Regions from separate parts of the Homo sapiens genome. Here all the other regions are linked to region 3. The links come from fine-mapping of genetic effects on gene expression. A gene starts in region 3. Each other region holds a variant in brackets. All regions are shown on one strand. Distances are between the middles of the regions.

What was found.
Region 1: its variant is fine-mapped to the expression of PLPP7 in prefrontal cortex (ROSMAP, PIP 0.95).
Region 2: its variant is fine-mapped to the expression of PLPP7 in left ventricle (GTEx, PIP 0.92).

The regions. Positions count from the first base shown.
Region 1 is chr9:130,734,331-130,744,431 of GRCh38, forward strand. It overlaps a transcript of ABL1 not described here. Among named protein-coding and RNA genes, the nearest start is that of EXOSC2, 46 kb to the left of the region's middle. The variant AT/A (reference allele first, on the strand shown) is at 5,032.
Region 2 is chr9:131,330,590-131,340,690 of GRCh38, forward strand. All of the region lies in intron 1 of LOC105376299 (a long non-coding RNA gene), which reads left to right. Among named protein-coding and RNA genes, the nearest start is that of PLPP7, 46 kb to the left of the region's middle. RefSeq lists an enhancer at 1-492. The variant C/A (reference allele first, on the strand shown) is at 4,312.
Region 3 is chr9:131,285,301-131,295,401 of GRCh38, forward strand. PLPP7 (phospholipid phosphatase 7 (inactive)) reads left to right here and starts at 4,423. Exons shown (of 2, transcript NM_032728.4): 1 at 4,423-5,148. The coding sequence starts at 4,698. RefSeq lists enhancers at 2,696-3,611, 4,190-4,309.

The DNA.
Region 1 (10,101 bases), 550 kb before region 3:
AGCCTCCCCAGTAGCTGGGACTACAGGCACCCGCCACCATGCCTGGCTAATTTTTTTTGCATGTTTAGTAGAGACAGGGTTTCACCGTGTTAGCCAGGATGGTCTTGATCTCCTGACCTCGTGATCCGCCCGCCTTGGCTTCCCAAAGTGCTGGGATTACAGGTGTGAGCCACTGCGCCTGGCCTGAATCTTCTTTTTTTTTTTTTTTTGAGACAGGGTCTCACTCCGTCACCCAGGCTGGAGTGCACTGGCATGATCTTGGCTCACTGCAATCTCTGCCTCCCAGGTTCAGGCAATTCTCCTGCCTCAGCCTCCCGAGTAGCTGGGATCACAGGCGTGTGCCACCAAGCCTGGCTAATTTTTGTATTTTTAGTAGAGACAGAGTTTAGCCATATTGGCTAGGTTGGTCTTGAATTCCTGGCCTCAAGTGATCTACCCGCCTCAGCCTCCCAAAGCGGTGCAATTACAAGTGTGAGCCACTGCGCCCAGCCTCTATTGAATATTCTTACCCTTTGGTAGTTGAGTGTTTTGGAATGGCGGTGTGTAACAAACATACCTTATGTATGCTTTTATGATTTATAATTTTATGCTGTTATGAAATTTTATAATTATAAAATTATTTATAATTTAAAAAATTTATACATTGTCCTACAAGCTTTGTGGCAGTTTTACGATTTATTTTAAAATTAAATTGAACTTTTTTTGTTGTGTTTTTTTGAGATACAACCTTGCTCTGTTGCCCAGGCTGGAGTGCAATGGCATGATCTTGGCTTACCGCAACCTCCGCCGCCTGGGTTCAAGCGATTCTCCTGCCTCAGCCTTTTGAGTAACTGGGATTACAGGCACCTGCCACCACATCTGGCTAATTTTTGTATTTTTAGTAGCGATGGGGTTTCACCATGTTGGCCAGGCTGGTCTTGAACTCCTGACCTCAGGTGATCAGCCTGCCTCAGCCTCCCAAAGTGCTGGGAATACAGGTATGAGCCACTGTGCTAGGCCTAAATTGAACACTTTTGAATAGATAATACATTTTCTAATTTAAACTACAAAGCTACAGAACAAACATGTATTTTCAGAAGCTTGCTTGCACCTCTGCCACTCTGTCCTTTTCCTTCTCCTACTCCTCTGGAAAATTTTTTGTGTGTGGTTTTTTTTTTTTATCCTTCCAGTGTTCTTTTTTGCAAATACAAGCAAATATATATTTATTACACAAAAGATAGCATACAGTATATACCGTTCTGTACCTTCTTTTTTGTTTTTCCCTTAATAGATCCTCAGGATCTCCCCATATTGGAATATGTATATCTTCCTTCTTTTTATGGCTGCATTGAATTCCACTATCTTGGAAGTATCATTGGTTTTCCAACCAGTTCCCTTTCTGGACTTTTGGAGTGTTTCCAGTCTTTAGATATGATAAACAGTGCTTCAGGGGTAACGTTATAGCTGTGGGAGAGATTCCTAAAAGTCGGGGCACTGGGTTTAAGGGTACATGCGTTTGTCATTTCTGTTAGTAGATGGATTCTACTTGGTAGATAGCTACCATTTTGCGTATGTCTGTGTGTATATATATGTGTGTGTATATGTGTGTGTATGCATGTGTGTGCATATATATATATATATATATATATATATTTTTTTTTTTTAAGACAGGGTCTGGCTCTGTTATGCAGGCTGGAGTGCAGTGGCATGACCTCGGCTCACTGCAGCTTCAGTCCTCGGGGCTCAAGTGATACTCCTGCCTCAGCCTCTCTAGTAGCTGGAACTATAAATGTATACCACTATGCCTGGCTGTTTTTTGTATTTTTTGTAGAGATGGGGTTTTGCCATGTTGCCCAGGCTGGTCTTAAACTCCTGGGCTCAAGTGCCTCCTTGGCCTTCCAGAGTGTTGGGATTATAGGCATGAGCCACCACACCTGGCCTGTATTAATATAGAGTAATAGAGATCTATATTGGTAGATATTTCCACATTTTCTTCCGTAGACATCATTCTAGTTTACAGTCCCATCGCTGGTAATACAGAGGTTGCCTTCATCCCCAAAGCCTAGCTAAGAGAGTGTATTGTCAAGCTTTGGGACTTTTTCCAATCTGATATCTAAGAAATAGTATTTTAGTATGGTTTTAAATGGTAGGTCTTCTGTGAGTGAGGTTGAACATTGTTTTGTTTTGTTTTGTTTTTTGAGACGAAGTTTCGCTCTTGTTGTCCAGGCTGGAGTGCAGTAGTGTGATCTCGGCCCCACCGCAACCTCCGCCTCCTAGGTTCAAGCAATTCTTCTGCCTCAGCCTCCCAAGTAGCTGGGATTACAGGCATGTGCCACCACACCCGGCTAATTTTGTATTTTTAGTAGAGACGGGGTTTCTCCATGTTGGTCAGGCTGGTCTCAAACTTCCGATCTCAGGTGATCTGCCCACCTCGGCCTCCCAAAGTGCTGGGATTACAGGCGTGAGCCACTGTGCCCGGCCGGTTGAACGTTTTTAACATGTTTAGGGGAGATACATACTTATCTTTCTGTGAACCATCTCATCAGGTTCTTTGTGTGGCAGATATTTAAATAGGAAACTATGTAGGGCCTAGTTGATTGCCTATATAGAATCCAGTACCCTGTCTATGCCCCTTCACTGCCCAAGCATGTCACAAGGAACTGCCCTATTCCAAGCTCCAGAGGACCTGCTGAGTAGGTGCTTTTCAGGAGCTTGAAAAGACTGTTTCCAGGTCTACCCCCAGGGGTTAATTTAATTGGTCTGGGGAGAGGCCTAAGTATCAGTTTTTTTGTTTTGTTTTAGTTTTTTAGTAAGGAGAGACTTTATTGAAAAGGATTTTTGCAAGGAGGGGAAAACGACTGTTGAAATAGGGAGGACACTCTGACCATAAGGAGGTGTGCAGGCATCTTCTTTTTCAAAAAATGTTTTCAGTTTTAAAATTTAAAAAAAAATTTATTTTATTTATGTATTTATTTTGAGATGAAGTCTCACTCTGTCTCCCAGGCTGGAGTGCAGTGGCGTCATCTCAGCTCACTGTAACCTCCACCTCCCGAGTTTAAGTGATTCTCCTGCCTCAGCCTCCCAAATAGCTGGGACTACACGTGTGCACTACCACACCCAGCTAATTTTTGTATCTTTTGTAGAGATGGGGGTTTCACCATGTTGGCCAGGCTGGTCTCGAACTCCTGACCTCAGATGATCCACCCGCCTTGGCCTCCCAAAGTGCTAGGATTACAGGTGTGAGCCACCACACCCAGCCACCTGGACATGTTTAAAGAACCCAGTACCTCAGGTTTAAGGAGCTTTTATGTTTGGTCCAGACTACGTTTCAGGGAAGCCACAAGCAGAGTTTAAAGCCTGCTGAGCACCGAGCTGGTTCTTGGTGCTAACAGGGCTGAGACTAGTGAAAAAGTCATGTTGAGGCATCTGCTCAGTTCCAGTGTCTTCCTTGGCATCTGCTTGTGCCTACTGTTTGCCCCCTTTGCCTGTGTGTTAAAACAGCCTCTGTCTCAGAACAGTGTCTTTTTTTTTTTTTTTTTGAGACAGAGTCTCACTCTGTTGTCTAGGCCGGAGTGCAGTGGCACAATCTCGGCTCACTGCAACCTCCACCTCCCAGGTTCAAGATATTCTCCTGCCTCAGCCTACCAACTAGCTGGGATTACAGATGTGCACCGCCACACCCAGCTAATTTTTTGCGTTTTTAATAGAGATAGGGTTTCACCATATTGGTTAGGCTGGTCTCAAACTCCTGACCTCGTGATCCGCCCACCTCCACCTCCCAAAGTGCTGGGATTACAGGCATGAGCCACTGCAGTGTCCTTTCTTGAGGAATGGTGGTCTATTAGGAGAAAAACCAAAAGATAAGACCCGAGACCAAGGAAATTGTAGTCTCAATGCAAAGATACAATCAGAACATTGCACAAGGGGGAAAGAAATGTCATGCTAGTGTTTGTATTTTAATTGTCTTTCCTTATTTAGACCAATAGTAGTAACAGGTAACTTGGGTTGCATGCTTACTAAGTTCCAGGCAGTAGTCGAATAACTTTTAATATTTAATATTCAGAACAATAAGGAAGAAATGAAAACTAAGAACTTACTAGCAATCCGGAGTTTATATTTCTTGAAAAGCTCATTACAGGTAGTTGCTGGAATGAGATAGTTTGTGTGCATGAAGAAGAACACACAAAAATATTAAAACATGACATGAGTGATGGTAATACAGCAGGTCCCCAGATAATGGCCTTTCATTCACTATTGTTTCATTATCATGTTGATGAGAAAAAAAAATCAATTCCCTGCTGGAGCTACTGTCTATTTGGAATTTACACATTCTCCAGTGTCCTCGTGGAACTTAACTCTTGTTTATATCAATTACCTTGCTGATTGATGGACAAATCATGGAAAATTGGTTTTGTTATATGTCATTTTGCTCAAAGCCCCAGTTTCCAAGAACCTATCAATGACATTAAGTGAGAACTTACTGTAGTTATTCCCTCCCCATTCAAAACAAATTTATTGTTTAGAGGATATAAGGAGAAAACATTTTTTCCCTCAGATGTATCCTTCTGTGTGTTATGTGTCTTTTTCTTTTGAGACAGGGTCTTGCTCTGTCGCCCAGGCTGGAGTGCAGTGGTGCGATCTCGATTCACGGCAACCCCCACCTCCCTCGTTCAAACAATTCTCCTGTCTCAGCCTCCAGAGTAGCGGGGAGCCACCCGCTACAGGCGCGTGCCACCATGCCCGGCTAATTTTTGTATTTTTTTTAGTAGAGACGTGGTTTCACTATGTTGGCCAGGCTGGTCTTGCACTCCTGACCTCAAGTGATCCACCTGCCTCAGCTTCCCAAAGTGCTGGGATTACAGGCGTGAAACACTGTGCCTGGCCCGATATGTGTCTTTTTAGGCAAGCAGTGCTTATGTTGTTTGTTAGTGGTAAGCTGCCTTTGTAGCTCTGTGTTACCTTGAGTGAGACATGATGTGATGTTTAGTTCGTAGCATCCTCAGCACTGTCTTATTCACAATCATTGTCAATCTAAATGCATAGTCCTTCCTG[AT/A]TTTTTTTTTTTGAAGGCTTTTTAAAAAAGTTTAATTGAGATATGGTTACAATGGAGAAAAACCTTCAGGAAATATAAATGTAAAAAAAATTTTTAAGCTTTATTATTTATTATAAAAACAACATACATTTTTGTAAATTATTCAATCAAGGAAAATTGATTCAGAAAGCTATTTGAAATTCAATCAGCATGATCAATGATACTTTAACCCCTATTCAAATGAAAGTTATCCTAATTAAAAGTAGGTGCCCTAAGACCATTTTTCAGGGTGCATTTGGGTTCTATTGCTTCCACATCAGGAACTCATAATTACTGTATGGATTTTATAAGTTGATCCAACCATGGTATGACTTCTGTGGGTACTGGTAAGTCCACATCATTGCTTTGTAATAATGTATAATCATGACTGGATGCAGTGGCTCACGCTGCAATTTCAGCACTTTGGGAGGCTGAGGTGAGAAGATTACTTGAGCTCAGGAGTTTGAGACCAGCCTCCAACATAGGGAGACCCCAACATAGGGAGACCGCATCTCTACAGAAAATAAAAAATAACAATAAAAAATGTGTAGTCACAATGTTAAAGTGAATCAGAAGAGTTGCTAAGTTATGATCCTTTAATTGAATCAAAGTTTTTTGTTTAAATTGGCTTGCTGAGGAGTTTCCAGTAAATTAATAATGAATTATGTAATTAATATTATGTTAATATTAAATGTTATTTTAATCAGGTCACTGCCCTGCATGCCAACTTCCACTGAAGTGGGAATGTTTCACAGTGATTCAGTGGCCAATTAGCAATGCTCAGATTCGCCATTTATTGAGAGATTCACACACACACAATCAATCAAACATTCACAATGTGGTTATTAAAGGCTGTAATTAGGGGGACAATGAACCACAGGGATGGCTCAGAAGGTCAGAGCACTGATGGACCCTCAAGTGGGTTGGAAGTCCCTTGGATGCTAGTAAGTGAGGAGTGGCTGTTCCTCTCCTGGAGAGCCGCTGGGCGGCAATTGTCATGCTAGGAGGAGGCCTCAGAGTTCTCATGGGCAAAGATTCCAAAGGCGCCCCAGACATCATCAGCTCCTTGCTGTGTGTATGATTCTCCAAAGGTCTGCCCAGTATCATGGTCTCAGCCAGCTCTTGGCTCCATTTTTCCATCGGTGGTGGTACTATGCCACAGCAGGTGTTATTATCTCACCACCTTATTCTATTAGACGTATGTTTATCACTTCGAAGAAAAACAATTTTACTATGATCTCAGTTGCCAGGCTAGTACACATGTGCTTATCATTCTTTGTTTGCTTTTCTTTTGAGTCAAGGTCTTGCTCTGTCACCCAGGTTGAATTGCAGTGGCACGATCATCGCTCACTTCAGCCTGTAATTCCTAGGCTGAAGGGATCCTCCCACCTCGGTCTCTTGAGTAGATAGGACTACAGGTGTGCACCACCACACCCAGATTTTTTTTTTTTTTTTTTTTTTTGTAGAGAAGGGTCTCACTCTGTTGAACTCCTGGTGGCCTCAAGGGATCCTCCTACCTCGGCCTCACAAAGTATTGGAATTACAGGTGTGAGTCACTGCAGCTGGCCTTCACTTATCACTGTGAGGAGTAAACAGCTGCATGGTGGGCTTAATGCCATCTAACACGAGTGACTCCATGTTCAGACAGTAGGATCACAAATGATTATTATATAGCAATGAATGGCCACAGGTACATAGACTAAGGAGCCACATCCCTGCTCCTGGGATATCCTTTAGTCAAAGGGCTAGAAGGGTCCTGGAGGTTTGCCACTTCTCCGTGTTGAGGTACAGAGTTCCTAGACTAAGGGACTGGCTGCATTGTTATGTGTGAGTGCTAGTCATGGTGCTGCCTGGCACCCACAAATGCCACAGCAGACCCATGGTCGAGGGAGAGGAGCAGGAATACCAGTTACCATGCCGGAGTAACAGTTACGGCACTGATGCACCAGTTACCATGCCAGAGTAACAGTTACAGCACTGGTATACCAGCTACCATGCCGGAGTAACAGTTACCACACTGATATACCAGTTACCATGCCGGAGTAACAGTTACCGCACTGATGCACCAGTTACCATGCCAGAGTAACAATTATAGCACTGGTATACCAGCTACCATGCCAGAGTAACAGTTACCACACTGATATACTAGTTACCATCCCAGAGTAACAGTTACCGCACTGATGCACCAGTTACCATGCCAGAGTAACAGTTACAGCACTGGTATACCAGTTACCATGCCGGAGTAACAGTTACTGCACTGATAATACCAGTTACCATGCTGGAGTAACAGTTACCACACTGGTATACCAGTTACCATGCCGGAGTAACAGTTACCGCACTGGTATACCAGTTACCATGCCAGAGTGACTGATTTTGACCAAGACCTTTGGGTTGTACAGAAGGGGTGAGACCATACCTGTCCTCAAGCATTTCCAACCTAGTGTAGAGAAAAACAGGAGCAAGATAAGAACAACGTACTGAAAAGGAAATTGGATGAGGGCCTGGAAAAAGGGGTAAAGTGAGCTGGTTGGGATTGGTGAGTGCCACAGCTTCCTGCCCCTTAACAGATCAGTGCCATGGTGGCTGTGGTGTCCCTGGCCCAGACCTTCTCAGACAGGGCCTGGGTGCCCTTTACAGAGCAGTTGGGAAGAGAAGGGAACCTAGCCTTGTGACCTTTTGCTCCACAGACCTAGTCCTTTGTTGTGGTGCGAGGCTCAGTCGTCAGCCCACCGAGTCATGTATGTTCTCTGGTTGCCCCTGGTTTTGGCTGAACTCAAAGGATGGCTGTCTGTGAGGAGTACTGGTACTTTTTGCCACTTGTGTGCCCTAACTGTGGTGGATGCCATTTTGGGGATTATGCTCAGCAGTGAGTCACGTGAGATGCACACGTAGCTTTTCGGTGATTAATCCAGGTCAATGCCCTTACCCACATACTTCTGAGATGTACTGATGATGACTACATTTAAAGCTTTTTCTCCATTGGCTAGAAGTTGAGACCCATTTCAACAAAAGCACTTCCACCTCTCCTGAAGTGCATTGGGAAAACTGGAGGCCATTACTAGATTTACAGATGATGGGCCGTGCTTAAATAACCCATCTTAGCTAGACTCCAGGTTTCGTCACATATTCCCTACCTGTTGCTGCCATTGAGGGCTTTCTCTGTGCTAGGCACTACCAAATAATGCTTTGGTAACTTTGGTAATTTGGTAAACTTGGTAATTTGGTAAATTTGGTAATAAAGAGCCTTTATTCTAAAGTGCAAATCTAAGTTTGGGGTTCAGTAGCTCAAAACTCTCTGGTGGTTCCCATTATATAGAGTAACAGTCTTCATTTTAAAAAAGGTCATGTACCCTTATTAGAATTTTGTGAGCAAACAAATATGTGTGTATCGTATGTATGTTTATATGTATATCAGATGTACGCACATTAGTATGTGCTATTAAGATACTTTATATTATATAATATATACTGTATAATACCGTATATTATAAAGCATTCATAAAATGAAAATGAAGATGAAATAAATTGCATTGTAAATATTTAAAACTTTAAAAAATGCGTTACTGGTACAAAATTTTTTTGTTTCTAAAAAATTATTATTAATGAGCAATGGGACTGAATTTGCTTCACCGTTTTTTTAAAATCTTGATTTAACATTTGTCATACAGCTATTTTAACATCTTACACTAAAGTTGATTCTTGTTTTTTGGAGACAGAGTTTCGCTCTTGTTGCCCAGGCTAGAGTGCAGTGGCGTGATATCGGCTCACTGCAACTTCCATCTCCTGGGTTCAAGTGATTCTCCTGCCTCAGCCTCCCAAGTAGCCAGGATTACAGGCTTGCGCCACCATGCCCGGCTAATTTTTGTATTGTTAGTAGAGATGGGGTTTTGCCGTGTTAGCCAGGCTGGACTTGAACTCGTGACCTCAGGTGATCCACCCGTCTTGGCCTCCCAAAGTGCTGGGATTACAGGTGTGAGCCACCACGCCCAGCCTAGTTTATTCTTTTAATAGTGCTTGGGGGAGGTAGCCTCTAAGATGACCCCCAGTGATTCCCCACCTCCTGGTATTCCTGGCTCTTTTGCAAATGTCAATTCTAATTTGGTCCTAAGGTCTCTCTCTTGAGAGTGGCTATAGATTCTAGCCCTGCCCAGGAAAATAGGTTTGAATGCATTGGTCAGGTGAGACACAGAGCAGCACAGCAAGACACATGAAATAGCAGAAGTATTTTTATTACTTACTGATCCCAGAGAGGAGAGAGAGAGAATCCTGGGCCAAAACCTTTATTGGGAGTCCAGGGAGTTTCCCAAGTGGGTTTCCTAGGGCTATTATGTTACCGAAGCCAATAGTTCTAATTGATGGGTTTAAAGGGAGCAGGCACAAGCTTTGTGGGGGTCACGCTGTGATTGAGACATGGTCACTGTAGCATATTCATCTAGTACTTGTGGGGTCGGGGAACAAGAGGGGTGAGCCACATAGGCCCTATGTAGCTGTCCTGTAAAGAGGTAGGGGAGGTGGCCATCAAGAGGCATGGTGTTAGGCAGATGTCTGGAGTGGCCACATTGAGGGATTGGAAGCGGGTGTGTTTCTATGCTCCCTTAAGGATATTTTTGGAAACAACATGCTTGCTGCATACAAATATTCAAACATTTTATCTTTAAAACAAATTTTAGTACTGGTAACATTTATTAACTTTTTTTTTTTTCCTGTTCCCTAATTTGCTACCCAGCTTTTACATCAAAGCTCCTATCACAACCCTTCTTGTTTTTTTCTTTTTTTCCCTGAGACGGACTCGCTCTCTTTCGCTAGGCTGGGGTGCAGTGGCCACAATCTCGGCTCACTGCAACCTCTGCCTCCCGGGTTCAAGAGATTCTCCTGCCTCAGCCTCCCGAGTAACTGGGACTACAGGCGCATGCCACCATGCCCAGCTAATTTTTGTATTTTTAGTAGAGATGGGGTTTCACCGTGTTGGCCAGGATGGTCTCGATCTCTTGACCTCGTGATCCACCCGCCTCGGCCTCCCAAAGTGCTGGGATTACAGGGGTGAGCCACCA
Region 2 (10,101 bases), 45 kb after region 3:
AGCCTGACTCATCAAGTATTGCACGAGGGAAATGGATTTTCTACAAAATAAGAAAACCCAGGCTGAGTAGTGGCTCACACCTGTAATCTCAGCACTTTGGGAGGCCGAGGCGGGTGGATCACGAGGTCAGGAGATCGAGACCATCCTGGCCAACATGGTGAAACCCTGTCTCTACTAAAAATACAAAAATTAGCCAAGCATGGTGGTGCGCGCCTGTAGTCCCAGCTACTCGGAAGGCTGAGGCAGGAGAATCGCTTGAACCCGGGAGGCGGAGGTTGCAGTGAGCCGAGATCACACCACTTCACTCCAGCCTGGTGACGAGCGAGATTCCATCTCAAAAAAAAAAAAGAAAGCCTGAGCCTTCAGGCCTGCATTCTGGCTCGTTTATTCTTTCACCAGCTGGAGTCCTCCCCCGTGGCAGGTGCTGGCTGAGCCTGGGGAGAGCAGGCCACACGGGGGAAGGTGCTTTGAGACCCTCCCCAGAAGAATCCTCCAGCCTCTGGCTAAACCCCCAGCCACCTTCACCAGCCACATCCAGGCTCCTGGGAGCAAACACGAGCTCTCTTGGCTTCCTAAGAACCAGTTGTCCCTGTCCCCACCTACCCTCACCCCAGCAGTGCAGGGAGGGGGTCCCCTCCTGAGAAGGGTCACATTCTAGGCCTGAGGGCGGCCAAGCCAGCCCAGTGGTGTTTTCTCAAGCTGCCTGAAGAAACAAGTCCAGCATCTGGCCTTCCTGCTGTGATAATCCTCTTCCTGCCCCTGCGCCCCCTCCCCACTTGGCCGGAAAGCGGCAGGCTTTCTCTTCCCCTCCTTACAAGGGAGGCCTGGCTGGAATGTGTCCCTTGATAACGGGGCTCGTGAGGGGCTTGGCATAGAATGGGCTGCCTGCTGTGGGCTCTCAGACACATGTGGGGCTGACTGATAAGGGCCCTGCTGGCCTTCTGCGCTGAGGCCCCATTTGACAAGCTGTGGGCAGGATTTGAAGAGGGGTCAGTGTTCACAGAGTACCCTGGAATCCATCAAATGTGCAGGGAGCGGGCTGGGCACAGTGGCTCATGCCTGTAATCTCAGCACTTTGGGAGGCTGAGGTGGGTGGATCACCTGAGGTCAGGAGTTCAAGACCAGCCTGGCCAACATAGTGAAACCCCATCTCTACTAAAAATACAAAAAGTAGCTAGGTGTGGTGGTGCACGCCTGTAGTCCCAGCTACTTGGGAGGCTGAGGCAGGAGAATTGCTTGAACCCGGGAGGCAGAGGTTGCAGTGAGGTGAGATCGCACCATTGCACTCCAGCCTGGCGACAGAGCGAGACTCCATCTCAAAAAAAAAATTGTGCAGGGAGCACAGCCTTGGGCGGACCCTGTGTGTGCATGGGGGTGGGAGTGAGGGGAGGGAGACCCAGTCACTGTCCCCAGGGGCTCACAGTGTAAGGGCCCCTGGGGTCAAGGACATGAAAAGAGGAATTTGCTAGGTACAAAGTTGGTTTTTTTTGTTTTGTTTTGTTTTGTTTTGTTTTGTTTTTCAGACAGGATCTCACTCTGTCACCCAGGCAGGAGTGCAGTGACACAATCATGGCTCACTACAGCCTCTACTTCCTGGGCTCAAGCGATCCTCCTGCCTCAGCCTCCAGGGTAGCTGGAACTATAGGCATGCACCACCATGCCTGACTAATTTATTAATTTTTTATAGAGACAGGGGGGTCTCACCTACCCAGGCTGGTCTCAAACTCCTGGGCTTAAGTGATCCTCCCACCTCAGCCTCCCAAAGTACTGGGATTACAGGCATAAGCCAGTGCGCCCAGCCTGAAGTTATTTTATTCACCCATTAATTGTGTCGACAAATCTACAGATGTCACACTGAATGAATGAGTCTAGAATGAAGGTTAAGAATCAGGGCTCAGATATCAGCCAGGCCCAGATTCGAGGCATAGCTCCATTACTTAGTGGCTTTGACTTACCGTGTAAGACTCCATTTCCTCATCTGTAAAATGAGGAGAACCGGCCAGCCGGGCGCAGTGACTCACGCCTGTAATCCCAGCACTCTGGGAGGCCGAGGTGGGCGGATCACCTGAGGTCAGGAGTTTGAGACCAGCCTGGCCAACATGGTAAAACCCCATCTCTACTAAAAATACAAAAATTAGCCGGGCGTGGTGGCAGCCTCCTGTAGTGTCAGCTACTTGGGAGGCTGAGGCAGGAGAAGCGCTTGAACCCGGGAGGCGGAGGTTGCAGTGAGCCCACTGAACTCCAGCCTGGGCAACAAGAGTGAAACTCCATCTAAAAAAAAAAAGAGGAGAACCAAGTACCTACCTCAAAGGCACCTCATGAGGGTTTGGGGAGATGGCACACATATTGCACGCAAAATGGGCTTGGGGACTGGTAAGCCCTCAGTAAATGTTTTGTTTTTGTTTTTTTTAGATAGTGTCTTTCTCTGTCACCCAAGCTGGAGTGTGGTGGTGTGATCTCAGCTCACTGCAACTTCCACCTGCTGGGTTCAAGTGATTCTCCTGCCTTAGCCTCCCAAGTAGCTGAGATTACAGGCCCCCACCAGCATGCCCAACTTATTTTTGTATTTTTAGTAGAGACAGGGTTTCACCATGTTGGACTGGCTGGTCTCGAACTCCTGACCTCAAGTGATTCACCTACCTCGGCCTTCCAAAGTCCTGGGATTATAGGCACAAGCCACCACACCCGGCATGTAAATGTGGTTTTTTTTGTTTTGTTTTTGTTTTTGTTTTTGTTTTTGAGAGAGTCTCACTCTGTCGCCCAGGCTGGAGTGCAGTGGTGCAGTCTCGGCTCACTGTAACCTCTGCCTCCCAGGTTTAAGCGATTCTCCTGCCTCAGCCTCCCAACTAGTGCACTCCAGCTTGGGTGACAGAGAAAGACACTAGCTGGGATTACAGGCATGTGCCACCACGCCCAGCTGATTTTTTGTATTTTTAGTAGAGATGGGGTTTCACTGTGTTAACCAGGATGATCTCAATCTCCTGACCTCGTGATCTGTCCGCCTCGGCCTCCCAAAGTGCCGGGATTACAGGCGTGAGCCACCACACCTAGCCCTGTAAACGGTTTTTAAACCATGACACTGGCTCCCAGTGCTTTGGGAGGCCAACGAGGAAGGATCCCTTGAGCCCAGGAGTTCAAGACAAGACTAGGCAACAGAGCAAGACCCTGTCTCAAAAACAAAAACAAAAACAAAAAAACACAAAAACCATGACTGCTGGAATCCCAAGGGCCCGGAGATGAAGAAGTGCTCTCCCCTCCACCTGCCTCTGCAGGGCTGTGTGGGTTGGGAGTAGCCATGAGGGCAGTGTCTGAGGACACAGGGCAGCTTCCTGGAACCTGGGCTGGGAAGAGGGTGCAAGGGGCAGAGCTGGGAGCAGGGGAGCCTCTCTCCTGGGGCCCCGGGCTTTTGTGCATGTGCCTCATTCCATCCTCTGCAGACCAGCCCCCTCTGCTATCATGGCTGCCCCTCATGGATCCCTCACCCCAAGTCCAGTTTCTCTTCCAGTTAGACAGAGCCCACCCCATGTGACCAGAGTCTCCCAGACCCGATTCCAAATGGCCAGGAGAGCTCAAACCCAGGCCCAGCTTGTGTCCAGCCCTGGCCGAGCCCACTCAGCTGAGGCTGCTGGCGGGGGCCTGTGGGTGCAGGCAGTGAGCTCTGTAAGAGAGGGGCTGCGCCACCCCTTGCTGTAGGACCCCAGCCTCCAGGCCAGGGCCCCTGTGTAGCAGGTCCTCAAAAAAGCATTTTCTAGGCCAGGTGCGGTGGTTCATGCCTGTAATTTCAGCACTTGGGAGGCTGAGGCAGGAGGATCACCTGACGACAGGAGTTTGAGAACAGCCTGGCCAACATAGTGAAACCCCGTCTTTACTAAAAATACAAAAATTAGCCGGGCGTGGTGGTGGGCGCCTGTAATTCCAGCTGAGGCAGAAGAATGGCTTGCACTCTGGAGACAGAGGTCACAGTGAGCTGAGATCACGCCCCTGCACTCCAGCCTGGGCAACAGAGCGAGATTCCGTCTCAAAAAAAAAAAAAAAAAAAAAAAAAAGCATTTTCCAGGACAGCTCTTGCTTCTTAGCCCTTCGCATACATCAAACCGTTTAGGAACACTGTCTAATTACAGCCGGGGCAGGACAGTTCTTGTCTCCATTTCACAGTCCGGGGAAGTGCTTTACCCCAGGCCACGTGGCAACTCAGGCCTGCAAGGCCCCAGCCAGGGGTGGGCAGGGCCGGTGGGAGGGAGAGGGTGCCTGGGGAGTTAAGAATATCCCTGCAGTGCTCAGCCTCTGGGTCTTGTGATGCCGAAACTCAAG[C/A]GCCCCCTGACTCAGCAGGATATTAATAAGCCTGGCCGGTTCCCAGGGGGCCGGCTCTGCCAGGGGCTGGAACAGAAGGACTCCCAGCCCTGCGGCCCGGATCCCCCTCCCCATGGCAACACAGCCCCACCCCTACTCCTTCTCCAGGTGCCCCCTAGCAGCCCCACAGCCCAGAGTCTCCCAGAACAAATTAATGTGGGGGAGCCCCCCAACCCACTGCTGAGCATATTGGGCAAATCTCACCGAGCTGAAGGGACCCTTCCTAGAAGGGATCCAGGAGGAAAGACAGAGCCAAGCAGCCTGGGAGAGGGAAGGGGTTTGAGCAGCCAACAGTGTGGGTTTGGGATGGGAGCTGAGTTGCAGCCCTGGTTCTCCCATTTCTAAGGTGCTCACTTGGGACAAATCCCTTATCAACACTAAGCCTTGGTTCCTTCCTTCCTTCCTTCTTTTCTTTTCTTTTCTTTTCTCCTTCTTCCCTCCCTCCCTCCCTCTCTCTCTCTCTCTCTCTTTCTTTTTGAAACAAGGTGTCATTCTGTCACCCAGGCTGGAACACAGTGGCACAATCATAGCTCACTGCAGCCTTGACCTCCTGGGCTCAAGCAATCCTCCCACATCAGCCTCCTGAGTAGCTGCGACTATAGGCCTGTGCCACCACACCCAGCTAACATTTGTATTTGTTTTTGTAGACACGGGGGTCTCACCATGTTGCCGAGGCTGGCCTCAACTCCTGTGCTGAAGCCATCCTCTGGCCTCAGCCTCCCAAAGTGCTGGGACTACAGGCATGAGCCACACACTGCTCGGCCTGAGCCTTGGTTTCTTTTTTCTTTTCTTTCCTTTCTTTTTTTTTTTTTTTTTTTTTTTGAGACAGACTCTCGCTCTGTCGCCCAGGCTGGAGTGCAGTGGGTGGCACGATTTCGGCTCACTGCAAGCTCCGCCTCCCGGATTCACGCCATTCTCCTGCCTCAGCCTCCCGAGTAGCTGGGACTACAGGCATCCACCACCACACCCGGCTAATTTTTTGTATTTGTTAGTAGAGATGGGGTTTCACTGTGTTAGCCAGGATGGTCTCGATCTCCTGACCTCGTGATCTGCCTGCCTCGGCCTCCCAGAGTGCTGGGATTACAGGCGTGAGCCACCCGTGCCTGGCCTTTTTTTTTTTTTTTTTTTTTTTGAGACAGAGTCTTACTCTGTCGCCCAGGCTGGAGTATAGTGGCTCGATCTTGGCTCACTGCAACATCCGCCTCCCAGGTTCAAGTGATTCTTATGCCTCAGCCTTCCAAGTAGAGATGGGGTTTCTCTCTATTTTTAGTAGAGACGGGGTTTCACCATGTTGGCCAGGCTGGTCCTCGATTTCTTAATGTGTAAAGTGGGGATGGTAATGGTACTTCATTTCTGGTTTTGCTATAAGGACCCAGTGAGGCAGCTGTCCTGAAGGGCGAGCCTTGGGAGCCCTGGCTGTCCAGGCTGGTCTCAATGGACCCGGCTGTCAGGGCCACTCTCGGCTGAGTTTCTGTCCTACAGCGCCCTCTAGTGGGAAAAGGTGGTCATTGCAGGGGCATCCAACTCAGGTGGCCAGGGAGCTTTCCTATCCCAAGTTGGAGTCCAAAATGTGCCCTTTCTGATCAAGTTAAATTCATGGCCCTTATTACATATGCACCAGCATGGTACGGCGAAGGAGGACAAAGAGAATGAGACCCATTCCCTTCCCTTTGGAGGCTCAAAGGGCAGCACTGCCTGGTTTGGGCATCAATGTGACAGTCAAGTCTGGGTCCTGGTCCTGCCCTCTCAGTGGCCTGCACAAGCCACACCCTCCCTGAGCTCCAGAGTCCTCCTCTGTAAACAGGATCACAAAACTTTCCGGTGGTAAGAGCTACGGAGAGGAACTAGGAAGAGCCAGCAGGAGGCTTGTGTTTGAGATGCGATGGCCAGGGAGCCCACCTTTGAGGAAATACCCGAAGCAGTGAGGGAGAGATCTTTGCAGAGACCTGGGAGGCCAGCGAAGGCCTGTGCCAGTTCAAGGAAGAGCGAGAGGTCAGTGGGGTCAGCGCGGAGCGATGGGGGCCGGAGGAGATGAGGGGAGAGGGGCTGTGTGTCACGATCAGTGCAGTAGGATGCGTAATGAAGGGCCCTGGCCCAGGTGGCCATGGAGGCCTCCCAGAGCAAGGAGTGTCCAAGCTGCGGGTGGCAGAGAGGGGTGGGAGAGCTCGGAAGACCTGATCCCAGTGCGGCCCCAACACTAACATCCTCTGTGGTCCAAGATCAGCCCACATCCCCTGAGCTCAGTTTCCTCATCTGCAACATGAGGGAGCTGGCCTAGCTACAGCCCCTCTTTCTCTAATCTGACACCTGCCGCTGGGGCCAGGGCTCCAGCCTGACTGCGTAATGCACAGGGACCCCCAGCTAGCTCAGGGTAGGCGGCGTTCGTGAAAGGTCCTCACACCCTCCAGTCCAGGCTTTTGCAACCCCTGGGCCTCAGCTGGATGTGTGAGTGGAGTAGGGGCAGCATCAGATCTTTTGACCTGAGGAAGGCCAGCAGCAAATGCCCCAGGATCTGAGAGCTTGCTGTGCTCGCTGCTACCAAGTTGTCTTTGCTTACAGGCTGTTAAGGGGTGAATTGTGCGTCCCCAAAAAAATATGCTGATGTTCTAACCTCCAGTCCCTCAGAATGTGACCTCATGTGGTCTTTACCGAGGTAACCGGGTTAAGATGCGGTCATCGGGGGGTGAGACCCTAATCCAATATGACCGGTGTCCTTATAAAAAGGGGAAATGTGGCCCGGTGCAGTGGCTCACGCCTGTAATCCCAACACTTTAGGAGGCTGAAGTGGGAGGAGCCCAGGAGTTTGAGATCAGCCTGAGCAACATAGGAAGACTCTGTCTCAATAACAACATAAAACTAGCCGGGTGTGGTGGCACCACATGCCATGGTCCCAGACACTCCGAAGGCTGAGGCAGGAGGATCACTTCAGCCCAGAAGTTTGAGGCTGCAGTGAGCTAGGATCACACCACTGCACTCCAGCCTGGGCCACAGAGTAAGACTCCATCTCAAAAATATGAAATTAAAATCAAAAGGAGGGGGGCAGGCGTATTGGCTCATGCCTGTAATCCCAGCACTTTGGGAGGCCAAGGCAAGTGGATCACTTGAGGTCAGGAGTTCGAGACCAGCCTGGCCAACATGGTGAAATCTCGTCTCTACTAAAAATATAAAAATTCGCCAGGCATGGTGGTGCATGCCTATAATCCCAGCTACTTGGGAAGCTGAGGCAGAAGAATCACTTGAACCTGGGAGGCAGAGGTTGCAGTGAGCCAAGATCATGCCCCTGCACTCTAGCTTGGGCAACAGAGCAAGACTCTGTCTCAAAATAAATAAATAAATAAAAAATAGAAAGGAGAAATGGCCACACAGAGAAGACATGCAGAAGGAAAGAGGGAAAGCAACATTAACACGCAGAGAGAAGGCCGGGCGCAGTGGCTCACGCCTGTAATCCCAGCACTTTGGGAGGCTGAGATGGGTGGATCACCTGAGCCCAGGAGTTCGAGCCCAGCCTGGACAACATGGTGAAACTCCATCTCTACTAAATACAAAAATTAGCCAGGCATGGTGGTGAATGCCTGTAATCCCAGCTACTTGGGAGGCTGAGGCAGGAGAATTGCTTGAACCTGGGAGGCGGAGGTTACAGTGAGCTGTGATTGCACAACTGCACTCCAGCCTGGGTGACAGAGCTCTGTCTCAAAAAAAAAAAAAAAGACACAGGGAGAAGACAGGCTGTGAAGAGGGAGGACAGGAGTGACTCCGCCACACTCCAAGGAACACTGGAGGCTGCTGGAGGCTGGAGAGAGGCCTGGGCAGAAGGATTCCCAGCACCTTCAGACGCAGCGTGGCCGAGGCTGCAGAGAGGCCTGGGAGGGAGGATTCCCAGCACCTTCAGACACAGCGTGGCCCTTTCCACCCCCTCACTTTGGACCTCAAGCCTCCAGAAATTTGGGGCAGAACATTTCTGTGTTCTAAGCCACCAGTTTGTGACATTTTGTTACCGTAGCCCTGAGAAACTACGCCACAGCTCTTCCAGTGTGCCAAAGACAGGAAGGCTACCCCCAAATTCATAAGTTCATGTTGATATTTCTTTCTTTTTTTAACACTTTATTTATTTATTTATTTTTATTTTATTTTTTAAATTATACTTTAAGTTCTAGGGTACACGTGCACAACATGCAGGTTTGTTACATGTGTATGCATGTGGCATGTTGGTTTGCTGCACCCATTAACTCATCATTTACATTAGGTATTTCTCCTAATGCTATCTCTCCCCCCTCCCCCCACCCCACAACAGGCCCCAGTGTGTGATGTTTCCCATCCTGCGTCCAAGTGTTCTCATTGTTCACTTCCCACCTGTGAGTGAGAACATGCAGTGTTTGGTTTTCTGTCCTTGCGATAGTTTGCTCAGAATGATGGTTTCCAGCTTCATCCATGTCCCTGCAAAGGACATGAACTCATCCTTTTTATGGCTGCATAGTATTCCATGATGTATACATGCCACATTTTCTTAATCCAGTCTATCACTGATGGACATTTGGGTTGGTTCCAAGTCTTGGCTATTGTGAATAGTGCCGCAATAAACATACGTGTGTATGTGTCTTTATATTAGCATGATTTATAATCCTTTGGGTGTATACCCAGTAATGGGATCGCTGGGTCAAATGGTATTTCTAGTTCTAGATCCTAGAGGAATCACCACACTGTCTTCCACAATGGTTGAACTAGTTTACACTCCCACCAACAGTGTAAAAGTGTTCCTATTTCTCCACATCCTCTCCAGCACCTGTTGTTTCCTGACTTTTTAATGATCACCATTCTAACTGGTGTGAGATGGTATCTCACTGTGGTTTTGATTTGCATTTCTCTGATGGCCAGTGATGATGAGCATCTTTTCATGTGTCTGTTGGCTGCATAAATGTCTTCTTTTGAGAAGTGGTTGTTCATATCCTTTGCCCACTTTTTGATGCGGTTGTTTGATTTTTTTTCTTGTAAATTTGTTTCTTTGTAGATTCTGGATATTAGCCCTTTGTCTGATGGGTAGATTGCAAAAATTTTCTCCCATTCTGTAGGTTCACTCTGATAGTAATTTCTTTTGCTGTGCAGAAGCTGTTTAGTTTAATTAGATCCCATTTGTCTATTTTGGCTTTTGTTGCCATTGCTTTTGGTGTTTTAGTCATGAAGTCCTTGCCCATGCCTATGTCCTGAATGGTATTGCCTAGGTTTTCTTCTAGGGTTTTTATGGTTTTAGGTCTAACATTTAAGTCTTTAATCCTTCTTGAATTAATTTTTGTATAAGGCATAAGGAAGGGATCCAGTTTCAGCTTTCTACATATGGCTAGACAGTTTTCCCAGCACCATTTATTAAATAGGGAATCCTTTCCCCATTTCTTGTTTTTGTCAGGTTTGTCAAAGATCAGATGGTTGTAGATGTGTGGTATTATTTCTGAGGGCTCTGTTCTGTTCCATTGGTCTATATCTCTGTTTTGGTACCAGTATCATGCTGTTTTGGTTACTGTAGCCTTGTAGTATGGTTCAAAGTCAGGTAGCATGATACCTTCAGCTTTGTTCTTTTTGCTTAGGATTGACTTGGCGATGCGGGCTCTTTTCTGGTTCCATATGAACTTTAAAGTAGTTGTTTCCAATTCTGTGAAGAAAGTCATTGGTAGCTTGACAGGGATGGCATTAAATCTATAAATTACCTTGGGCAGTATGGCCGTTTTCACCATATTGATTCTTCCTATCCATGAGCATGGA
Region 3 (10,101 bases):
TTTTTTTAATTGAGACGGAGTTTCGCTCTTGTCATCCAGGCGCTGGAGTACAATGACGCGATCTTGGCTCACTGCAACCTTTGCCTCCCGGGTTCAAGCGATTCTCCTGCCTCAGCCTCCTGAGTAGCTGAGATTACAGGTGCACGCCACCAAGCCCTGCTGATTTTTGAATTTTTAGTAGAGACGGGGTTTCACCACATTGGCCAGGCTGGTCTCAAAGTCCTGATCCACCTGCCTCGGCCTCCCAAAGTGCTGAGATTACAGGCGTGAACCACTGGCCCGGCCTTTTCTTTTTTTGAGACGGAGTTTCGCTCTTGTCGCCCAGGCTAGAATGCACTGGTGCCATCTTGGCTCACTGCAACCTCTGCCTCCTGAGTTCAAGCAATTCTCATGCCTCAGCCTCCCAAGTAGCTGGGATTACAGGCGTTAGCCACCACACCCAGCTAATTTTGTATTTTTAGTAGAGACCAGGATTCACCATGTTGGTCAGGCTGGTCCTGAACTCCTGACCTCAGATGATCCACCCGCCTCGGCCTCCCAAAGTGCTGGGATTACAGGCGTGAGCCACTGCGCCCGGCCTTGACTACTTGTTTCTATCCTGCTTTAGAGCACAGGGATATATGCAGAAGGACAGCCACCCTAGAGTAGTTTTTGAATAGTTACACAATGGAAACAATGAAATGTCCAATAACAGGGGATTGGTTACATAAATTCTGGCCCATCCATGTGACAAAATGCCAGGCAGCCTTTGAAAAATAATAGAGTGTCATGGAAACATGGCCAGATTTATATTGTTAAGTGAAAAGGATAGGTTGCTTTTCAGAAGAATGTATAATGTCATCACATGTTTAAAATGCATATTTTGGGGCCAGGCGCAGCGGCTTACATCTGTAATCCCAGCACTTTAGGAGGCCAAGGCAGCAGACCACTTGAAGTCAGGAGTTCAAGACCAGCCTGGCCAACATGGTTGAAACCCTGTCTCTACCAAAAAATACAAAAATTAGCTGGGTGTGGTGGCATGCACCTGTAGTCCCAGCTACTCGGGAGGCTGAGGCATAAGAATCACTTGAACCCGGGAGACAGGGATTGCAGTGAGCCAAGATCATGCCACTACATTTCAGCCTGGGTGACAGAGTGAGACCTTGTCTCAAAAAATAATAATAATAATTTTTAAATGCATATTTTTGTGTATGTTGCATATATATGATATATAGAGATATAGCTTATTTAGTATATATTATTTTCTAATTAATAAAGTAATGCTTGGTTGATGCAAAATATTTTAGTAATTGGAAATGAGACAAGTGAGAAACCGTTTATATCCTGATCACCCTCACGTTAACACTGGGTGGTAGGATGAAACCTATATCAACCGCGTGTGTTGAATCTATTGCAGTAAGTATGTAACACTTTGATAGTAAGAAAAAATAAGGCTATTGGTAAAATTATACTCTTTTATAAATTGGCTAATTATTTTGTGGATGTGTGTCCTGGTATCCCCAACTAGACTGCGAGATCAATGAGAGGACGAGATCAATAAAAGCATTGAATGAATGAATGGATGGATGAATGAATGAATGAATTCTCAGTCTCTTGGGAAGTGGGATTGTGCGGCCCATATTGGGTGCTTATAAAGGTTTGTGGGGGCCAGGCACAGTGGCTCGTGCCTGTAATCCCAACACTTTGGGAGGAGGAGGCAGGAGGATCACTTGAGCCCAGGAGTTCGAGACCAGCTTGGGCAATATAGTGAGACCTCGTCTCTAAAAAAATAAAGTAAAAATAAAGGCTTGTGGGTTGAGGCAACCAGGAGTGTCTGTGGTCCCATCCTGCCTCCCTGTATCTGGGTGCTATAGTAGGTGGTTCAGGTTAGCCCACCAAGCTTGCTTGCTCTTGCTTCCCAGCTACCTGAGACTGTGAACAGTGTCACCCCACCATACAAGGGAGAGGAGCAGGTCTCAGGGTCCTGGAGGAAGCCACCAAAACCATCACAGACAGAAAGAGCCCTTCACACAATCTTCTTGCCAGCCCTCAAAGGGGAAAACGGGCTTGGAATGGCGAAAGGATTTGCCTGGGGTCACTCTGGAGGTGGCTGAGCCAGGGTTTGAACCTGGGGCCATCCTACCCCAGACTTTATGTCTTAACTACTGCTGGGCAGGAGCCAAATCAGACCCCATGGCCCCAACAGTGTGAGGCCCATTGTGGCTCTCAGAACATGCCAGCAGCTCTAGCCAGACGAAATGCTGACACAGCCTCTGGGTATTAATAGCCCCTGTCTGGGCCGGGCTCCTGTGCCCCTCCTGAGGCCACCCAGGGAGAATGGGGTGAGTGCTTGGTGGGGAGATGAGCAGATCAGTTCCCTGTGGTCCAGGGATCTGAGTCCAGCGGCCCTCGTGCCACCCCCCATAGGGACCACTTAGGAGCCGGACCCCTTCTCTTTTCAGCTTCCTGGCTCGAGGCCTTCACCCACTCAGCCTCAGCTTCCACGTCTGTAAATGGGGATATCACAGCTGCGTTACAGGACTGTCATTAGACTTTGTCGATAAGCTGAACACATAGAGAGCTCAGCACACAAAGAGCTTATACACGCTCAATATCCGTGCCTGGCGTGCACACTTCCATGTGCGCCAGGTTCCAGCCGTCTAGTGTCCGGGATGAAGCAGCACATGTCATCATTGCTGCACCCAAGATGGCAGGACGTCTCGCGGCCACGACATCCCCTCTATGGCCGCACAGTCTGAGTGGAGCACGCTGGAGAGGAAGAGTGGGGAATGAGGCAGGTCTAGCCTGCTCCAGCCCAGCTGGACCCAGCCAGGGCGTCTGCAGGGAACCCCAGACTGAAGGCTCCTGGACTCTGGCCTCATCCCTGCCAGGAAAGGGGTGGAGGCCAGACCACAGGGTTGGGCCCTTCTGAAGCGGGCACTCAAAAGGAAGAGACGGCTGTGCCTCGTTTGTCAAATGAAATCAATTACTAACCCACAGGGCTGAAATTGATTCCTAACTCACTCTGCAGCAGGGACTCAGCTCAGCGTTTCACAAACACTGTCTCACCCGGACTCACGAGAGCCCTAAGAGGTGGACACTGTCATTCCCATGCGACAGGTGGAAACACCAAGGCCCAGGGAGGCCAAGTGAGTTGCTCAAGGTCTCCCAGCTGGTTGATGGCGGGGCAGAGCCCCGTCTGTCTGACTCCAGAGCCTGGGTGCCCATCCCCCATGGCCAGGGAACACCCACTCCCTCCCAGGGCAGCTTCCTGTTCTTGGGAGGCTCTAGGTGGGCCTGAGGCACCGTGGGCTGGCTCCATGGTTGGAAGAGAAGTTGCAGCCCCCTGCCTTCATCTGGGCGAGCAGACAGGCCTTGGCCACTGAGAATCAGGAGACGGAGGAGCTCACTTCTGACTCTTCTGGTCAGCTTAAATTGGCAGCTTCCCCCATCGAGCCCAGGCCCAATCAGCCCTAAAAGGGCTGTGGAGACTTCGGGTTCCCACAGGTGGTCCAGATGGGAGCAGGGATACCTCCCTCACATCCGGAATCCTCAGCTGGGCCCTCTGGGTCTGCGTTCTGGGTTTGCAGCCTCTCGTCCCCTTGGGCCCCATGCAGCCACACGGGCCTCCTGGGCCTCCTGCAAGGCAGGCTGTCCCCGAATGGGACTCCCCCTTTGTTCTTCCTTCCTGGGGGCAGCCGTCCCTGATTCCCAGACCAGACCCAGAGCCCCCAGAGCCCCGCTTCTAGGATCCTGCCACACATTTGCACACCTGTGACCACTTACACGTGTCCTTCTTTCCATCCCCACTGAGCTGTGAGCTTTTCGCAGTGCGCCCAGCACTGACACACTGCCAGGCGCTCGGAAACTATTTACGGGTTGCCTGAAGCTGCTGTCACACTCCCGTCCTTTGCGAAGTTCCAGGTAGTGGAGGCAACCTCCAAGAGGCAATCCATTACCAACCAACTCATGACCCCTCCCTCCGGTGGAAATCAGAGCTCACGGAGTGTCGTTTGATTGGACTGTGATGCACTGAAGCTGAATTCAAGACTGATTTAAAAAAAGACCTGCCAGCTGAATGAATGCTGTCACAGAGGGAGGAGCTGGACCTGGCCCCAGGGACCCAAGATGATGCTGTCAGTGACGTCGTTCACTCCATCTGGTGCCCAAAGAGGCCTCGGCCCAAGCAACACCGTCCAGTTTACAGGACCAGGTCCAAGCTGCCCGGCAGCTGGGGCAGGCAGGCCTGACTTGCAGGGGTCTGGACGGCTCAGAGGGAAGCTGGTAAAAGCAGGGTAAGCCCAGGTCCCACCTCTGCCCCTTCAGAGGCCAAGGCCACTGCAGAGTCCAGAGCAGCCGGAGGACTACATTTCCCAGAGTCCCCCAAGCCCAGGGATGAGCCATTGGCCGATTTAAATAGCCCAGGCCCGAGGCAGCCAGGCCGCAGCTGTGGACTCCTCACCTCCCGGAGGCTCTGCTGGTGCAGGCCCCGCATTGGAGGGCTCGATTGGCTGCCCGGCTGGCACTGACGTCCCCTTGGAGCTGGGTGGCAGAGGAGATAAACAGCCATGTGCAACTCTCCACACTATATTTAACAGCTGCGGCGGAGAAGGCAGGGAGGCAGCCACGGTGGCGGCTCTGGGGGCAGCTCTTGTCTTCGGGGAGAAGGCCCTTGGAGCCGGGCTGGCATCGGCCTTCTCGGGGTGAGCGAGGTCACCATGCCAGCTTCCCAGAGCCGGGCCCGTGCCCGGGACCGCAACAACGTCCTCAACCGGGCTGAGTTCCTGTCCCTGAACCAGCCCCCCAAGGGGGGCCCGGAGCCCCGCAGCTCGGGCAGAAAGGCCTCGGGCCCATCAGCACAGCCCCCACCTGCTGGTGACGGGGCCAGAGAGCGACGCCAGTCACAGCAGCTGCCAGAGGAGGACTGCATGCAGCTGAACCCCTCCTTCAAGGGCATCGCCTTCAACTCCCTGCTGGCCATCGATATCTGTATGTCCAAGCGGCTGGGGGTGTGCGCTGGCCGGGCGGCGTCCTGGGCCAGTGCCCGCTCCATGGTCAAGCTCATCGGCATCACGGGCCACGGCATCCCCTGGATCGGAGGCACCATCCTCTGCCTGGTGAAGAGCAGCACACTGGCCGGCCAGGAGGTGCTCATGAATCTGCTCCTGGGTGAGTGTGCCTGCCGCCCGCCACTCACTGTCAGGCCCCTCGGGAGGCAGCCTGGCCTGCCCAACCCCACCCTGGCCGGGACCTGCACAGCCCTCAGAAACCGGCTGGGATGGTCTAATGAGGTTAGGCAGGAAGGGTGCCCCAGAAACAGGCAGGCTCCGGCGTGGGGGAGCGACAGCCAGGGATGCATAGACGAGGCTCTCCTGCCACATGCCAAATGAAGACAGAGGCCATTGCGGCCCTGTGAGAAGGACCTGCTCAGCAAAAGGCACCGCTGCCCAGAGGCAGCTTGAAGGGAGGCTGGGCCAGAGGCGGTGGCCTCAAGGGAGACGGTCAGGGCTCTGGTGGGCATCCTGGAATGGGGTGTCACTGTTTGACTCCTGCCCCACGGCTGAGGTCCTCGCTCCTTGACAGCTCCCAGCCAGGCTGTTCCCGTGAGCTGCCCCATGAGCACCTCCCGCCTCGGTTCAGGAACCGGGAAAGCTGCCCAGGCTTCTTCCCCAGGGTCTGGGGACCCAGGGAGTTCCCCTGGGACTGCCACCCACTCACAGCCCCCTGGAGTTCTTCCCTGCTCCTTCCCAGGGGGAGTCACTGGAGAAGGGTTCGGGGGGCCAGTTGTGGGTTTGTTTGTTTGCAAAGTCTTTGCCACCAATGTCTTGCAGATTAGCACCGCCCTGTGCCAGGTGCCACGTGGGGCCCATGTGGAGGCAAGCCATTCCCTCCACCCAGAGGTGATGCCCAGCCCCCGTCCGGCCCACCCTTCGGGCACCACCAGGTCCCCAAGGTGCCCCAGGAAGCTTCCACCCTCCACGCCAGGCCCGCATCGATTTCCTTGTCTTTCCCGGTGTGGCCATCATTTGAGGGACATGTGAGGTGGAGGTCTCAGGCAAGGCAAACATTAACAAGGGGTCTCAGTTCCAAAAGGGCATTGGGTTGGACCACGGAGAACATCAGTTCCAGAGGAAGTTACAATAAAAACACGTATCTCCCTGCTCTAGTCTCAGTCTGGAGGCTCTATGCTCTCTGGGTGGGACTCGGGGAGGCAGAAACCATTGGATACTTCATGCAGGAGATGGCTGGGTCTGCCACCTTCGAGGTTTTCTTGTTCCTTTTTTTTTTTTTTTTTTTGACAGAGTCTCGCTCTGTCACCCAGGCTGTAAGACTGAAGTGCAGTGGCACGATCTTGGCTCACTACAACCTTCAGCTCACTACAACCTCCGCCTCCCGGGTTCAAGCAATTCTCCTACCTCAGCCTCCCAAGTAGCTGGGATTACAAGCGCACACCACCACACCCAGCTAATTTTTGTATTTTTAGTAGAGATGGGGTTTCACCATGTTGGCCAGGCTGGTCTCAAACTCCTGACCTCAGGTGATCCACCCGCCTTGGCCTCCCAAAGTGCTGGGATTATAGGCATGAGCCACCGTGCCTGGCCAGTTTTCTTGTTCTTATTACTAAATTATTTACATTACAATAACTTATGATTTACTCCTGAATAAACAGTCTCACGAGGTTGGTGCCATTATCATGCCCATTTTACAGATTAGGGAACTGAGGTTCCTATAAATAAAGCAACCTGGCCCAGCCTCAGGGCTTGAGATTTGCACTGGCTCCAGCTGACACACAGGCCTCTGCTCTTCCAGGTGCTGTGCCATGGGCGTGGGAGGGAGGGACAGAGCAAAGTGGCCGAGGCACTAGGCCAGGCGCTTCCAGGGGCAGAACCTGCTCTCATTATCCACAGTTTCACACAGGGCCACGTGGCTCAAGAAGACTGTTGGGATTTAGAGAGGTAGGTTGCCTGCTGTCAGAAGATGGGGTGGGAAGGCATACACTCCAGTCTGTCTCTCAACCCTGCTCCCTTGACCCCATCTCTTCCTTCCCACCTTCTTTCCCCATGTGACAAGGGAGGTGATGAAGATGTCATTGGTTGAGTGCTTACCGTGTTCCAGGGCTTTGCATAAACCATATCATTACTTCTGATCTTCACCATAACCCATGGAGCTTGGTGCTGTTATTATTCCCCATTTAAAGAGGGGGAAATTGAGGCATGGGGTGACGATGGTTCTAAGGTCCTGCAGCTAGTCAGTGATGGAGCCAGGAGCAGAACCAGGAGCAACTCTAGCTTTGCTTTGCGTTTTCAGAGGAGAGGGAGAGGGAACCAGCTCAGACTGTGTGAAGCTTCCAGCAGGGGGAGGATCAGAGAAGAAAGGAGGTGCATCTCAACTTACCCACAGTCAGTGGATGCTCTAGTAAGGGGGTGAGCTCCCCGTGGTAGGAGGTATGCAAGCAAGCTGCCTCACATCACCAAGTAAAATAGCTCTGCTTTGTTTTTTTTTTACAGGAATGTTTGCTTTTAAGAACATTTCCCCTGCCCCAAACATTGAAAAATTTGCAACCTACTTGTTAAGATAAGGCTTCAGGCTCATTCCAGCAGCCAGCTGCCATGGGCACAAAGCTGTTTGCCCCACAGGATAAAGATGAAGATTTGAGTTGCCTTCCTCCTTGAACAGAAGTGATAGACATTTTTAAAAATCTTTAAAAACATCATGTATTGAGCTTTATTATGTACCAAAGACAATGGCATGAACGGCCTGTATTTTATGATGTAAAAAAGCTGTCGATGACCTTTCAAGGTAAATATTAATATGCCCATTTTACAGATGAGTAAACTGAGGCTCAGAAAGCTCAAGCAACTTGCCCACCATACAGCTATAAGCGGTAGGTTCAGGAAGTAAATCCAAGGCCCCGTGACTGCAAACCCCCCCACTCCTCGCTGCTCACCGTGGGGCTGCAGGTCGGGCATATCACCCGTGTTCACTGCACTCCTGGAGCGTGTGTGCTTTGCGGAGGGGAATGATCTGGGAGGAGGTTGACTGTCTTCATATCCAGGTGTTGAGGCCATGGGGACATAGGGCCTGGCACAAGTCAGGCATTCAGCATAGGCCACAGAGCAGGCCGGGTGGGTCTGGGGACCCCGAGGTCACTCTGTGGGGATGCCAGCCCAGACCTCGGCTTGGTGGGAGAAAATTGCAGCAAATGGCCAAGGCAGGCTCTAATCCTGCAGCTCTGGTCTGACCTGCCAGGAAGGAAGGTCCCACAGTCCCCTGCCCCGGGGAAAGCAGACTGCCCACTGAGCACACGCTGCAGGTTCCATCTGTCCTTTTGTCTTTGGAGGGCACCCTTCAACCCTGGAGCACAGGCTCTGGGGAGAGACTGGCTATTGTCCAGGTCCCTGCTCTGACCCTTACTTGCTGTACGCACATGCTCAAGTCAGTTCCTGTCTCTGAGCCTCAGTTTCCCTATCTGGGGGCTGAGGGGGATGTGGCAGGGATGTGAAGGGAGATGGCAAAGCATTTGGCATGGTGGGTGCCATGCCACACGGTGACATCACTGCAATACTGAAGGGGGAGGGAGCCCTACCTAGCCCTGCCCACCCGCTCTGGCCCCGTGGCACTCAGCTAACCCCCAGGGGCAGTCTCTGGGCTGGGAGCAAGACCTCCGAGCTTGCAGTTGGGACCTGGGTTCCACTTGGCTCTGAAGAGGCAGACTTGGGAGCTTGGGAAATGGGAGCTGCAGCTACGAGGCCTAGGAAGGGTCCTGCTGGGCCTGGGGAAGTTCTCTGCATGCTCCCTGCTTGGCAAGCAGTCCCATGCCCTCCCTGCTTGCCCCTCTCCTAGTGCACACTGTCAAGACTCTAGAAAGCTCAGAGCCAGAAGGGGTCTTAGCAGCAGGCAAAAGTTTGGACTCCACAGGCAGCCGGACCTGAGTGCAAATCCCAGCCCTGCTGTGGGAACTCAGGCAAGTGACTTTGCCTCTCTGAGCCTCAGTTTCTTCATCTGTCAGGTGGGTTGTTGGGAAATCTCCCTGATGAATCACACATGAAGTGCTTGGCACTTACTGATGTTGGTTAACGGTTAAGTAGCAATGATTATCATCATCATTATCACCGTCATCATTGTCAGAAGTCCAGGACCAGCCTCCTGCCAGGTACCTTCCAAGCTCTAGATGCCTTGAGACCACCTGTCCCCTTCTCCCTCCCGAGCAGCACCCAGCTTGATGATCCGAAGGGAGCCAGGTGACAGGTGACAGGTGACCAGGCCCATCCCAGTTCACTAAGCCCATCCTTGTTTCCTCATGGGCCTGTCCTGTGGTGGGAAATGCCTCTGGTCTTGTTCCTTGATCTATGTCCTTTATGAAAGTATCTTTTTGTTTGTTTGTTTGTTTGTTTGTTTGTTTGTTTTTGAGACACAGTCTGTCTCTGTTGCCCTGGCTGGAGTGCAGTGATAAGATCTTGGCTCACTGCAACCTCCGCCTCCCGGGTTCAAGCAATTCTCCAACATGGTTTCGTTATGTTGGCCAGGCTGGTCTCGAACTCCTGACCTCAGGTAATCCACCCACCTCGGCCTCCCAAACTGCTGGGATTATAGGCGTGAGGTGATCCACCCACCTTGGCCTCCCAAAGTGCTGGGATTACAGGCTTGAGCCACTGTGCTGGCCTATAAAAGTATCTTTTTTTTTTCCTTTGAGACGGAATCTCACTCTGTCTCCAGGCTGGAGTGCAGTGGTGTGATCTTGGCTCACTGGCATGAACCCGGGAGGCGGAGCTTGCAGTGAGCTGAGATCGCACCACTGCACTCCAGCCTGGGCGACAGAGTGAGACTCTGTCTAAAAAAAAAGTATCTTTATTGAGATTTTCCTGAATATGAAAACTACTTTTTTTTTTTTGAGACGGAGTCTCGCTCTGTCACCCAGGCTGGACTGCAGTGCTGTGATCTTGGCTCACAGCAACCTCTGCCTCCCTGGTTCAAGTGATTCTCCTGCCTCACCCTCCCGAGTAGCTGGGATTACAGGTGCCCGCCACCACGACTGGCTAATTTTTGTATTTTTAGTAGAGATGGGGTTTCACCATGTTGGCCAGGCTGGTCTTGAACTGTTGACCTGATGATCCACCTGCA